2 separate regions of the Homo sapiens genome follow, and region 2 is linked to region 1. A link means that fine-mapping ties the variant in region 1 to the expression of a gene that starts in the linked region. Tissue or cell type: skeletal muscle. Region 1 holds a variant in brackets; the other region holds the start of a gene. All regions are shown on one strand. Distances are from middle to middle.

Region 1 (7,385 bases):
TCTGCTTCCCTCCATGCCATGGGAAACACTCTGTTCTACCCCATCCACACTCACAGTCTTGGAAGGGAAGGCTGCAGCACGTGGCTTCTCCTTTTCAGAAAGGGGCGTCAGTGCACACTACTATGTTAATTTGTCAATTAAACACACACACACAATTATGCTGCACACTAGAACAGCCCGGAGGAACTGCACATTCCAGCCCTCCTCCCGACCCTTTGCCCTCTCTGCTTGTGAGCAGCACATATGGTTTAGTGAAGCACACAGCGGGGAAGAGGAGCTCCTTACAGACCAAGCCAAGCACCCCAGGTGGGACACGCACTCTCAAGCACTCTCAAACTATAGCCGTGGCTCTTGGCTCTGAGTGCGTTTAAAATTGAGTGTGTATCCAAGGAAGGCAGACAGAGGCCACAGTCCCCAGGATGGCTGAAAAATGCTAATGGGAGCGCTGAGCTGTGAGGAGAGGAACGCAGAGCTCTGACATGGGTTTCCCAGCAGGTGGGGCTGTGGGGCACCCAGCATTCTGTATGTAGAGCTACTTGCCAAGTTCAAGGCCGACACCAACCCAATGACACTAAGGGAGAGAGGACAGAGAGAGGATCACATACATTGATGATGCACATGAAGAGTGTTCAGATGCCCTGGCCAGCTCCTGCGTTCTGCTCCAGCTGGAACCACTGGGCTGGGCTGGGCCTAGCACCATTAAACCCAGCTGTAGTTGAAGAGATTCTGCCACACCTTCCCTTCCAGAATCTAAGTGCCAACAGAATTATGTGCAGAAGCTCTGATGATTCATTCTCATTCTCAACACAGATTGATAAAAGGAACCTGAGAGCGCCAAGGGATGGTATCGGAAGCGCTATTCAACCATAGAATCTCAGCCATTCAGGGAGAACCTGAGATGTGGGGGAGGAGGTGTCCCCATTGTGCAATGCCCTTTAATTATAGCATTTAATTATGCCAAGCTGGGCACTTACAGGGACGCCTGAGAGTGGTCAAACCTCTTTCAATCCATCTACTTACGTGAGAGCTCCCCAAATCGATGTGGTAATGCAACCATTACCACCATGGAGACAGGCTTCAAACCCACTTATAGCACCTCTCCCTTTAGGGGAACAATACATCTAAAGATGAGAAATTAAACCAGAGGTTTCTCAAGTCAGTGGGCAGGGGATTGTCTAAGCCAAGGTGCTTCTTTGGTTCTGGCCACTGACAGTGGTCAGGACACCAGGTGTGACAGCTGCTCCTGGAGCCAAGGGCACCCTTACCTGGTTGGGGGCCTCTGGCGGCATGGGGGATGGTGACTTGGACTGGAAGGCATCCTGGGATATGAATCCTGAGTCATGGGAGGACACGCTGGACAGCCTCACAGGAGCCTGCTGGGCCAGGTTGGAGCTGCGGTAGCGGTAATGTGAGCTGGGGGAATGCGAGTGGGAGCCGCTGGACCGGGAGTCACTGCTGTTGACACTGTTCAGGCTGCTGTGGAGGACAAGCAGGGGTGAGGGGTGGGCACGGAAGGTAAAGAAAGGGGAGCAGTGGTAAGAGGAAGGAGGAAGGAGGGGAACAGATGAGGCAGAAGAGAGAGAAGCACAACATAATGCAATTAGCTCTCTGCCCTGGAGATGCAGTGCAAACCACAAAACACGTTTTCAAAACACCAAATCATGAAGGTAGTCAACAAAATGCTTTTCCAGGTGACCCAGGGGGAAATACAGCTGCCAGGACTCAGGTCTCCGATGGTAACCATGTGGCATTCTTACGAGGGAGGTCTGGGGTTCTAAAACGTCAAGTGCGCCCAACTCTGCTGCTTCGCCTACCACCAAAACGAGGGGAGCTGATGTCAGTAGCAAGAAAAGGGACAGGGTTAATCTGCCTGCAGGAACCATGAGCCTGCAGCAAAAGTCCACTGGGGCTTCAGCATGACTGGAATGTTCTTGGATGGACCATCTGGGTCCACATGACCAAGGCCAACCCAGCTAAGCACTGCCGATGGATTTGCTGAGGTGATTTCATCCTAGCTGAGTCTGGTCAAGCCCGCTGTCAAGAACATCAGCAAATCAACTCACTATGTTGGTGTGCATATGTTTTACCTTTTAACAAAGTGATGCTTTAATTAATGTTTTTACTCTGACCCCAGCTGTTTCTGTGTTAAAATATCTGTGGGTCTGGCACAATAGCACACTTGGCAAGAGGCAGGCAGCTTTCAGCGACTAAGGGCAATCAATGCTCAGCTGTTTGCTCTTGAAATGGCACAGTAAACAGGATGTCAAATAATGACACACCCGCTCTGGATTTCTGTCTGCCTTCCATCTCCACTCAAAAGAAACATGCTCCTGGCCAGGTGCGGTGGCTTACGCCTGTAATCCCAACACTTCAGAAGGCCAAAGCGGGTGGATCACCTGAAGTCAGGAGTTCAAGACTAGCCTGGCCAATACGGTGAAACCCCGCCTCTGATAAAAATACAAAACTTAGCCAGGCATGGTGGCAGGCACCTATAATCGCAGCTACTTGGGAGGCCAAGGCAGGAGAATCACTTGAACCCAGGAGGCAGAAGTTGCAGCGAGCTGAGATTATGCCACTGCACTCCACCTGGACAACAGAACGAGACCCGATCTCAAAAAAAAAAAAAAAAAAAAAATGCTCCACACTCTGTATAGTAACTTAGATCATAAAAAGCAGAAAACAGACTCCCATGGTCCAAACAAACGGAGCTGAAATAAAAAGAGCAGTTGTAGAGGCAGCAGCAGGGATGAAGTAAATAACTAGGGCTGGGATAGGAAAAGTCATGGTTTCTGCTCCTAAGCCTGCAAGAGACTCTGGCTTGCAAAATCTGGCAGCTAATAAGGTACTCAAGGGCCGCGTGACTGTTCTACACTAGAATTACTTGGTGCAAATGTTCAGACAGACATAGGGGAGCGTGCTGGAGGAAATCGCTGCAGTGAGGAATAAATATCATGATTTTTGACTTTCCCCTCCAGTCAGCCAGAAGGCGGCAGTTGGGGACCGACAGTAAAGCTCACAGCAACTCCACCCCGGCAGCCTCAGAGTTGCAGATGTCAGTGCAACATGGTTTTCTACTCAAACTAAAATTATAAGGAAGAAAAAAACAGCCACGCAACTTTGTTTTACACTAATGAGAGATTTTTCTTGGCAACAATAAAAAGGTCTCTCTTTCACTCACACACACACACACACACACACACACAGTCGACAGAAGATAAGAAACAAACCAATATCTTCAGGGGGCAGAATGTCCAGGATGCAGCGTCTTAGGTCTGAACTTCCTGCTAAGTGTGTAGTGTACAAGCTCCGCAGTGAAAGGAAATAGGCATCAGCGTGCACCAAAACATCACCACAGACAGATTGAGCAGATACATCCTGCCCTCTACTCTCAGTGCTAATACACAGGAAGTGGAAACTCATTTGGCTTTGAAAGTTAAATTAAAAGAGTAACAGGACTACTATACCAAGAGAGATAGATGGTACATCATGCTTCCATCTTTCAAGGAGAGGAAAAGAAACTTTCCTACTCGGCAAGCCAAGAACTGACTTCTAACAGAAAATTGCTAGACAACAGTTTTGCAGATGGCAGAACTATTCCAACAGATTTTGTTCCAATAGGGAACAGTACTAATTAATACAGGTGTGGTCGTGGTAGTGGTGGTAGTAGTAGCAGTGACTGACAGAGCAAGAACTCTATTTACTTTATGAAACCCTGAAACAAAAATATGGGGTGAAATGAGGGCATAAGCCATTGTTACTTCCTTCGTTTGTTCTGGCAACAGTGAGATCAGCCTGTGTAAAAATCAACCCAGGTTCACCATTTTTTAGGCCTTAGAAGGTTTTCACTCTGCTAAACAGGAAAATCAAATGTGATCTCATAGAATAGGAAAATCCCTACAACATACAAGTGAGAGAGAATAAGCTACATCCACAAGTCAAGGGCTAATGGGGTTTTCTTTCTGATCCAAAATTAATCCAGAGACTAAAGAGCAAGACCAAAATTATTACCATTCTTTCAGCTCATCATCCCATTTCCTGTTTGAGAATGAGCCATTCTAAGAGATAAGGACTGGCTCCATTGCTCACATTAGCATAAAGAAAAATGACCCGT[C/G]CTGAAAGCAAGAGTGGACCCCGGCTTCACTCACCTGCAGACACTGGACTTTCTGGACATGGTGGTGCTGGGGGAAGAGGGTGGCGTCTGATACGACCAGCTGTAATCAGAACCTTTCAAGTCCAGAATCACCTAAGGGGACAGAGCCAGCTGGGTGAATGAGGTGCTGAGAGGGGAAGCGTTAGCCATCAAAGCTTAACATCCACCAAAGCATCAAAACGCTGCCATCGTGGGGGTGGGAATGAAAGCAAAACATGTTAAAAAAATTTTTTTTAAATTGAAGAGCCACAGTACCAAATCCATCAATATCATAATCCTTTTACTGAGAAAGTAAAACTATAATTAATAGGGAGAAGGAAAGGAAGGGAAAAGGAAAATCATGAAATATCAGTCGAGAGAGGGAGAAATACAGTGACCAATTAATAATTTATAACAGCCATTTATACCCAAGGCTAGAATTTACAGGATTTTCCTCTTGTAATGCCATAAAGTTAATCATGGTTCCCAGACTTGTTGGTAGCGCATTTTAACCACTTGATATTCAGTGGTCATTTCTGCCCTATTTGACCAGCACTAGAAATTTTAAAGCCTGACAGAATCAAGAACAAGCCAATTCTTTCACCATTATTTCTATATCTGTCTCCGTTGCTTGACAAAGGACCACATGAGTATAAGGTCCACCTTTCATTCACATAAGAAGCACTCAGTAAATGTTTATTTGTCAAGTGAATGCATGCATGCTCTGGTCTAATAAATATAATTTGATAGAATAGAAAACATGAGCTCCCAAATTTGCCCTCTGAGCCAGCTCTCCAAGGAGACGAAAAGATTGTTACCAAGCACAAAAGCCAGCATGTGATTCATCAGTTCCCCCAAATATGTCTCTTCCCATAGTGTGCGTGTGATGTGAATTAAATGAATAAAGCATAAAAATGTCATCTTTTTCATAAGATGAGAGAGCTCTCCATGCATTGCTCAATTAGAATGGGAGAAATGGAGAATGGTTGACAGTGTCAATCAAAACACACCAGCGACGTGTTCTTAGGAGGGTTGACTTCTAGAGGGCAGATGAACACAGCAATTAAGTGCATGGGATCTGGAACCTGACCAACTTGGTTCAAATATCAGTTCCACTACCTGCTAGCTAGCTGAACCTGGCTAAGTGACTCCATCTCTCAGTGCCTCTGCATCATTCTCTATAAAACAAGCATAATCATGAAGATGAATGGAGGAAGTCAGGCTATGTAAAGAGCTTGGGACAGTGCCTGACACACAATAGGTTCTATGTAACAGCTCGCTGTGGTGATTTCATATATTACATCATGAAGGACGTGGTGAATATGACTACAATTTAAGACGTGACACATGCCACAGGAACACTCAGGGCCTTGAGCTTTTACCTCTTTGGTTTGATCCTGTAAGTGCTTAACCCCTGAAGCCTACCTGTTCACTTGAGGAGGGCAGTTTGTGAGGGTCCATGGTCAGGCTTTTTAGATCTTCCGAGATGGTCTGAAGGTGGGTTATTTCCCCTAGCATTGAGATTTCTTCTTCCTGAAGGAAAAGTCATTCATGAAATGTTATTATCATGAGTGATTCCCTTCATCGCTCTAGTCCAATTGTTTTCATTAGGGTCTCTGTATAACCCTTTCAGTTTTTCAGAAAAGGCACTGTTGGGACTGGCAAATCTTTGCTGAAGGCACTACATGCCTTTTCTTTTGGGAAATGAGATGGAAAAAGAAATCTGCCATAATGGAGGAGTGACCTGTGCACAGGGGACAGTGGGGAACACACAGGCCTCCCTCCCAGGGCCTGGGGGACTGCCAGGCCTGCTCAGATGGTCTGACTGTGTGTTCCCACGGGATCCTGCAGCACAGCCCTCTTCATACTGTGGCCCTTTTCTGAAGTTGCTTAGCTTCAATGGATGACACGACTTGGATATATTTTGGTCCAGATCTTTGTGACAGTGCCTGTGTGTTCAACAGAAGCTAACTTTTCCCCTTCTTTCTTGTGCTTTTCCAGCAACTTAGTAAAAGACAAGTAAGACAGGAGCTGGGGACCATGGAAGAAACATCCCATGTGCTTTATCGAAGTGCCAAGTTGGGACCACGGGCCGGGCTAGAACGATCCATGGAAAAGTTCTGTGCTCAGGGGAACAACTCAAATTCAGACATTTTGCTAGGGCTAAGGGAAATGAGCTGGTACCTTCGAATCAGCTTCCAGAACGCCTGCAGTGCAAGTTCTCAATTACGGCATGCAAATGATTTCCTTAAAAATTAAGTCTAAATTGATTCATTGAGGCTCTTGGATATTCATCTCATGGTCACCCCTTAGTACTCGGCTACAACAGTGAGTCTCAAAACCACCTGGAGTGCTCCTTTAAAACACAGACGACTGGGTCCCCACCCCCAGAGGTTTGGACTTGGTGGGTCTGGGTTGGGCCCAAGAACTTGCATTTCTAGCCAGTTCCCACGTGATGCTGCTGACCTGGGGACCTCACTTTGAGAACCACCCTGCTGGGCCTTCTTGACTTGGTGAGACAAAGTAACGGGGAACAAGTGGTACTAGAACAGTGAATGAGGAGTGAGCTACATGGCCATCAACTTGCACTGAATCGCTGGTCTGTACAGGAGATACCACCATCATGATTCCTGACAGTAGATTCTCCATGACTCAACAGTGGATGGATAAAATTAGAAGGAAGCCACCTCTACACCAGCAGTTTAAACCTTCTGGAGTTTTCCATTAACTTACAATCACTGGCCGCAGCATAGAGATGAAGGTACAGAATCGGCCACGTTCTTCAATCAAAGCCTTCCGGACAGCCTGCTTTTCTGTTTCTTCCAATAAGAGATACTTATCATTGACATCTTGGAGAGCACTGTCCAACTGAGGCTGGATATCACCTCTCCCTGCAAAAAACAGAGACCCAAGCACGGCTTGCTGAAATACCAGCTTCTGGAACAAGTGCCCCTCCTCCCTGGGGTCCTTGCTGGAGTCAAAACCACAATTTTCCAGGATGTAAAAAAAGTATTTATTCATGCCCCAAAAGGATTTAAGGCAGCTGTTTTTCTAGGACCAGCCATTTCCAATTTTCAATGCCCAAAGGGCACATTTAGCCTGGCTTATTCCTGACAAGGAAAATGTCCTGGGGCAACTCTTCATGACTTGCCTTCTCACACTGCACAACCCCCACCAACTCTTCTGCCAACACAACCCTGGAACACAGAGCCAGACAGCATTCTTTCCTTGCAGAACATTCTGAAGAGGCTAAGAG
Region 2 (7,385 bases), 160 kb after region 1:
TTTGGCCAGCAAAGTCTCCTGGTCTTAAGAACTCCCCAGACATCACCAAAATCGATGCCGGTTCAATGACTCAAAAGCAAAGGCACAAAGCTGCTGTTTGAGACATGGAGCCCTCCCTTCCCAGAGCTTGGATAGAAACTCCAAAAAGATTCCAGGACCTCCTTGATGCAGTCAAGATCGTCTACACATCGGAAGGCAGTCAACATCACTTCCAGACTACTGTTCCCCAGACAAACCAGCTATGGGCCCTTCCCTCCAGCCACGTGAATATCTTGTCTCCCCTTTCCTCTGGAACCAACTCACACCAGCCAATTTGATCAGCGATTTACTAATTTGCATGGATGGGAGGAAAGGCAGCCAGTAGGTGATTTTGCACAACACCGTTCATTAGCGACCACCACCACAGCAGGGTAGAATAAACGGGAAACAAACCACCAGGCTTCCTCTCGTCAAGGAATCGATATGTTGTTTACTAGCTGCTGCTTGCTTTACATGGTGCTGTTCCCCAGTGGAGAAAAAGTCAGGATTTCTTCCACACCTTACTGCCTGAAAAGGATAAAACCCATGCCCTGACAGCCAGCCGAGGACTTAGATGAAGCATCTTTAGAGGAAAGCACAAAGAATCCTCTCTCTCTTGCTTTTCCATGTCTTGAGGTTCTCTGGTTTCAGAAGATGGAGGGTGCCAGGCCTTGAAATTATTCCTTTTATTGTTTTCTTTTTTTCTCCAAAGAGGAAATTGACTCCCTTCCTGTGCTGCTGTACATTTTGAAGAATCAAATGCTACTAATAAAACCATTTTCCTTATCCTTTTCTCACCCAGCCTAACATCACTTCTGAGAAAATAACCTAAAAATTTTTATCAAGATGGCATTCCAAATGGGTTTCCGACATTTACGCTTTTCCCTCAGAGCAAACAGATAGGAGACCAAAGGCATTATAAACCCATTATGGGAGTTTAAAGAAGAGAACAAGAGGATAAGCAGGTCATTAGAAAGTCAGTTGATTTCAGATATTAAAAACTGACTTTTGTTGCTGGTGACTTCATGCATCTGCACACTATATACTGCTTATCAGATCTGTTCAAATTTAAAAATTTTTAATTTCCATTTAAAATGTCACTGTCATCTAATCCATGATGAAGTCTTTTAAGAAGCAAAGTCCAAGAAAATATTCAAGAATTGTCTTATGCATAAACAATCTTGGAAATCAGACATTCCCTCTCTCTTCATCTCTCGAGTCTCCAAAAGTCTAAAACTCTGCAGAACCCAAGGCATGTTTTAGTCTTCCATTCCACCTTGCTTTTAAAATTTTACTGCCAAAACAAACAAACCAAAAAAAAAAAACTTTAAAATAAATGATTTCCCATAGGATACTGAACAAACCTACTAAACTCAAACCGAAAGAAGTCAGGATACACAAACTCTAGATTCCGCCGTGACTGGGCATTAAAGAAAATGTCTTTATTTTTAACTGGAACCATGCAGGGGAAAAAACACCACCTTGGCACCCGTGAGTCCCCAGCCAGGGCATAGTGCCACGCAGCCACAGGATGGCAGGTGGAAAGCAGGACAGCCCACCCTTTGGGCAGGTCACCTTCTGAACGGCTTTCGATTCAAACAGTGAATGGGAAGAACCGAGCCTGGATTCTGGATTAAAGAACAAAGAGAAAAAACTCCAGATGTGATCACTCCAGGACTACAGTGGACAGATCCGTCAGTGTGCACTGGGGGCAACAGAATGAAAGGGGCTGTCTTTCAACAGGGAATAATCCATCTAATTCCAAGTGCCTGGACTATAAGCATTCCTGGGCAAGCAGAGTCTGGCTGCAGATTATGCTATGCTAAGGACAATTTGTGACAAAAGGCACGAGAGCTGTAGAAAGATTTCAAAATGGACAAAACCAGGACAGAGGCAGCTTGATAAAGTTCACCCTGGGTGAGGTGGCAGTTGGTTCTGAAAGGTGGAAGCAGGCCATGACAGCTGAGCATTCCTTCCCAAAGACCATCTCCGAGGCACGAAGCCTCTCTAAACCTTACACTTCATCAGACAAAAGCTCCTCCAGGCGCCCAGGCAGCGGCTGAAGAGGGGCTGTCCACACCCACTCGGTGCACAGCTTTCCAAACCTGCCCACTCGTTTTGGAAGCGAGCTTTTAATTAAACACCACCTCCCCGGATCTGGATCTGTTGAGGCAAACTGGGGCTGGGCCAGAGCCAAAGAGAAGCTCCCTAAATACACATTAAAAAAATAATTTCCCCCACCGCTCCCAATTCCCACCTCCAGCCAGCTCGCGCGGCTGGTTTTATTTCCTCTGGATGAATAACACGGGGCCCTGGTCTATCTCTAGGCACCAGAAAATCCACATCCGAGGATCAGGTTATCCCCAGTCCCACCCTTTGCAGGAAAAAACCAGGGTGTTGTTCCCCGCCCCCACGCGCGCGCGCGCACACACACATGCACGCGCGCACACACACACCATCTTCACAACCCTTCCAAGAGAAAACCTAGAGTGTGTGTCCGTTTGGGTCTGGGAGGGCAGGATACAGTTATTTCGGGGGCCCCAATCTTGCCTTTAGGCTCAGCTGGGAGAAGGCGGGGCCCCTGCAAGGCTGCCCGGGAACTTCGGCCCCGCGCCCCGCGGGAGGGCTAAGAGAGGGCACGCACACCTTTACCAGCTTCGGAACGGCCCAATTAATAACTAATTTGCTCAGATACCCCACTCCAAGTAGACCTGACAGCCAAGGAGGGACTGGCTTTCCCTCTCAGTCTCCTAGGCTAGGGGACTCCTTCCTGCGAGCGGGCAGAGCCCCCACTTCCTCCCCACCACCGCGCCAGGCGCCCCCACCCCGTGCCCGGAGGAATCAGGTGTCCTCCCGGGCATCCAGCCCCCGCGGGTCCCAGACACTTACTTCAGGGACAGACAATGGGAAAACTTGCAGCCAGTGCCTTGAGCCCCCGAGGGAAAGAAATGGTGCCGCCCCCTGGGACAATGAGCGGGGGAGATGGCGTGGGACAGCAGACACCCCCCAGAGAAGCCACCCGCCCAGTGACCCCGCAGAGCCCGGAGCAGCGCCCCGGGTGAGCAGGTGACACTCCGGCCGGGAGCTCCCGCAGGTGGCCGGTGGCCACACTGCAGGGAAGGGCCGGGTGCCCGGCCCGGGGTGGAGGCGAAGCGCGGCGGCGAGGTCAGAGCGCGGCGGCCGGCGCCGCAGCCGCACCCCCGGCGTCCTACCTTCATGTCGCTGATGATGGTCTGGAAGAGGCCTCCGAGCGCGCTGCATTCCTTCTCAATCACAGCCTCCATTTTCCCGGCTCCGGCAGGGCGAGGGCACACACGCGGGGCCGCTGGACTGCGCGCGGGGCCGGGGCTCGCTCACCCCAGAAGGAATTTCACCTTCCGAGAGACCCACCTCGGACTCGCAGCCTCTTCTGCAGCGAGGACGGGGTGCACCAGACCGACTGTTCTCTGCCCAAAATAATAACAGTAATTTAAAAAGCCAAACCGCTCTGTAGGGTATTCGCCTACAAGCAGCGCTCGGCTCCTGGCCTTAAAAATGCCGGGAGAAGACTGACAATCAGGCCACCACTGGTGCCCACTACGGAAACGGCAAAGCCCATCTTGATGCAGAGAAAATCGCCCGCTGACCCGGGGCCAGCGCCATTGAAAAACGCAAGATTTTCCAATTTAATAAATTTTTCTGCAATTAAAAAAAAATCGCCCAACAGCAGAGCGGGTCAGCTCGCGGCGTCCGGATCTGTTGCTCGCAGCTGCGGCCGCCGCCTCCTTTTCACTCCTGCGCGCCCGGCCCCGGCGCTCGCTCTGGCTGGGCTCCCGGGGACGTTCGGAGGGGCGCACGCGCGCTCGCGGCCGTGCCCGCCAAGCGGAGGCGCGCTCTCGCGGCCGTGCGGCCGCCGCACGCGGGCGGGGCTGGGAGCGCGCGCCCGAGAGGCGCGTGGGGCACCCGCCGCAAAGAGGAGCCTGCTGGTCTGCTGGCGGGCAGGCGGCGCTGGGCCGGAGCCTCTCCCTCCGGTGCGCACAGCGCACCCTCTCCTCCCCCGGCCGCCCGTCGCAGCGCGGAGAGGGCGTGTCGGCACCCTGCCTGGCGAGCGCCCACCCCTACAATGGCTGCGAGCGCGCGGGACGGAGGGTGCACCGCCGCTCCCCGGGGACTTGCACGGGTGGCGCGCCTAGCCCAGAGCCCGCTTGTAGTGAGCGCTCAGTAGGGCGGGAAAGCTGCTGCCGCTACTGCGGCCTTCTGAGAAGACGCCCATTCTCTGATGTCAGGACTGCATCGCCGAGTCCTGATTGCAAATAGCGAAATATATAATTAAGGAGAGTTCGGGGGCGTATCCTGCAATGGGATGCCGAGTTCGATAAAGTTGCAGGATGCTGGGAAAGTGGATTGATTTGCTGTTGCTAAATGAATGGAAACAGCGTTAGAGCTTCTGTCCACGATCCATCAGTCTATCGAGATTGCTGATTGCCTATGACTTGGACGGTTGATGGTTTTCAGGCCCACTGAGAGCAGCCAGCGTTGGTATAACCGCAGGGAGCCCTCCTGGGAGGTTGAACCTGCAGAGCGCAAATGTGCCCAGGTTGATTTGGGGCCTAGTGGTCCATTTTCACAGCTCCACTGCCTATCTGCATAACCAGGAGCCCTCATTCAGATGAACGCCAAATGGGCCAGAGGGAGGAGAATCAAATGAGCAACTTTTAAAAGATATTAAGACATAGGCACCTAACTCCGGACAGTTCCTTTAACCCTTGAGCTAACCATTTGAAGCACAAAACATAACAAAAGAAAAGACTGGGGGGAGTGGGGCCAAAAGAAACCAAGTGCAAAATTCTGTACACTTGTGTCAGATTCACTCCGTAATGGGAAAAGGTCTGGCTTTGAAAACTTTATGGATCAAAGGGATGCATGGAGTTACACAGCACAGCTGCAGAAGATAATGTTCCCCTGGATCACTCTGCCCAACTCTTAACTGCAACCCACCTTCCCCATCCGTCTCCCCGAAATCACCCGGAAGGGTGTTACCTTCAGGAAGTAACTGATCTCTTGATCACCCCTGCTGGATCCTGTCCCCAAGGGCGTTCGAATGCATCCGACTCATCTTCACCTTGCCAATAACGGGTGCTTGACACATCGTTTGCTGCCAATCATTATTGTGATTTTAATACTATTGGTATTCTAACTATCAAGATGACTGCTTGTAGAGCCAGATTGCCTGGATTCAAACTCCAGTTCACAACCTACTAACTGTATGCCTTTAGGTATGTTACTTAACCTTTCTGGGCCTCAGTTTCCTCATCCATCTGTAAATGGGGATAATGATGGCTTCTACCTGATAGGGCTGTTCTGAACATTACATGAGCTGATCGATGAAAGCACTTCAAGTGGTACCTGGCATCTCGTAAGTAATCATTCGATAAATCTTATCAACAGAAGAAGCAGGGATGAGGCCAAGGCTCAGGTCCAGCCCTGGCCCCATTTCACTTCTGTAACATTGGTGTGCTGTCCCAGGCACATTGCTGAGGGTCTACTGTGTGCATTCTGGGCATTTTATACGTATTATGTCTACTTGAAGGAAATTATCATTCTGGTCCTTGTTGCACTGTTGGAAGGAATCCAACCCTGGTTTTCTGACTTCCATGCCCCAGGTCTCTCTTTTACCCAGCCTCCTGAACTCCTGGGATAAGGGGCCTTAGCCCAGTGGACACTTGGTCTAGCTTTCCTGCCACATGCTTAAATTTCAATGCCCCAAATACCCCAACTTTAGCAATGTTTGCCAAAGCATACCTCTCTTGTGGCCTTTTTCCCTGGGCCTGACCACCAGGCCCTTGTCTCTCATGAGAACTCCTTGAAAGGGAGGCTGGAAAAGTGTTCCCAGATGCAGGAAAGTGGGAGTGACACCTGGCAATTTTTTTTTTTTTTTTTTTTTTTTGAGACAGGGCCTCACTCTGTCACCCAGGCTGGAGAGCAGTAGCGCGATCTCGGCTCACTGCAACCTCCACCTCTCAGGTTCAAGCGATTCTCCTGCCTCAGCCTCCATGTTGGTCAGGCTGGTCTCGAACTCCTGACCTCAGATGATCTACCCGCCTCGGCCTCCCAAAGTACTGGGATTACAGGCGTGAGCCATTGTGCCTGGCCAGCTGTCATACATTCTTTCCTTGTTTTCAGATTCTCCTTTGTTTCTGGCTGTTGGGGACTTCCCTTCTTTTAGACTGGCTCTGCATATATTTAAAGAGATTCTGATTACATTTTACCAACTGTGTCTACGTGGCTATGGCAGGAGGGGTTTCAGGTTATAGAATCTGCCTCTGCGACAATAGGGTGTCCCGTTTTTGTTGTTTACATGATGAAATGTTGGGTTTTGTGTAATGTATAATATTTTACACTTTTAGGTAAACTCAGATGCCTCTGATGGATTCGAAATAACCAGATATATTTCTGAATTGCTTCATATGGTATGTAAACTTAAGGTTTTCTAAACTAATATCTTTTTCATGCTCTTTTATTGCTACTCTGACCAGACCCTTATCTTACTTATAAAATATATATTTTTCTCATCATGCTTATATGGTACAGAAAGAGCTAAGCCCCAGAAATACTGTTAATGAGAGGGAGATCAGGTCCTGGACAGTCTTGGTTTATAACTTGCAGCAGGGATATCTGTTCCCCTGAGAGCCCAGTTCTCCATATCAAGGCACTGCAGAAGTCAAATTAGTAGTCAGCAGGCAGCTTGGGAGCACATAAACAAAGCAAAGGAGATTGGATGCTCCTGGGAGGACAGGCGTGGTTTGGTACAAAGCAGGTGCTCAAGAAATGTCTCAGGAATGGAACCCAACCAGGTTCCTACCCCACTAGAGAGCAGACACAATGTCTTGGCGACCTAGAACCATCAGATACAGCCTCTCTTCCTCAAATAGTCCTGGAGAAATACAAAATATTATGACTTCTTTCCCCTTTCGGATCTTCCAACCCCGCTATTTGACTCCCATGATTGGAAGCTACAAACTGGCCTGCAGAGGAGTTTTTAAAATTGGAAAATCTAAAAAAAAAAAAATAAAAAATTGGGAAATCTAAAAATATTTAGAAGTTGGGAAACTTCACCTCAAGGAACAAAGTTTCAGCACTTCCAGGAAGATAGGAACATGTGGCAATTCAGGGCTCACATTCCCACCTGGCCTAGGCCTGGGGGACAGCTGGTCCGTGGGGGGAGAACTTGCTCTTTACGCTCCCCGCCACCCCCCTTCAGCCTTGCTACTAATCAGTTCATCACCTTTCATTGGTTTCCTGCCCCAGTGACACATTCTGGACATTAGGGTTATATTTCGGCATTTTTCAGCCTGCCATCCACAAAACACATACAAAACATCTCTTAG

Which allele goes with the higher level. Positions count from the first base shown, and alleles are read on the strand shown. Sizes are in standard deviations (SD) of each study's normalised expression.
For the expression in skeletal muscle of the gene that starts at base 3,820 in region 2, G is the low allele of the variant in region 1 and C is the other (small effect, 0.24 SD a copy in GTEx).

What was found. PIP is the estimated chance that this variant, and not a neighbour inherited with it, causes the effect.
Region 2: MTSS1 starts here. The variant in region 1 is fine-mapped to the expression of MTSS1 in skeletal muscle (GTEx, PIP 0.99).

The regions. Positions count from the first base shown.
Region 1 is chr8:124,561,517-124,568,901 of GRCh38, forward strand. It overlaps MTSS1 (MTSS I-BAR domain containing 1), which reads right to left. Exons shown (of 14, transcript NM_014751.6): 7 at 6,863-7,020; 8 at 5,555-5,662; 9 at 4,146-4,243; 10 at 1,266-1,476. LOC105375740 (a long non-coding RNA gene) reads left to right here and starts at 7,367. Exons shown (of 2, transcript XR_928608.3): 1 at 7,367-7,385. RefSeq lists a silencer at 460-549. The variant C/G (reference allele first, on the strand shown) is at 4,112.
Region 2 is chr8:124,724,654-124,732,038 of GRCh38, forward strand. It overlaps MTSS1 (MTSS I-BAR domain containing 1), which reads right to left and starts at 3,820. Exons shown (of 14, transcript NM_014751.6): 1 at 3,231-3,820. The coding sequence starts at 3,302. It overlaps LOC105375741 (a long non-coding RNA gene), which reads left to right and starts at 3,886. Exons shown (of 3, transcript XR_002956670.2): 1 at 3,886-5,413; 2 at 6,405-6,467.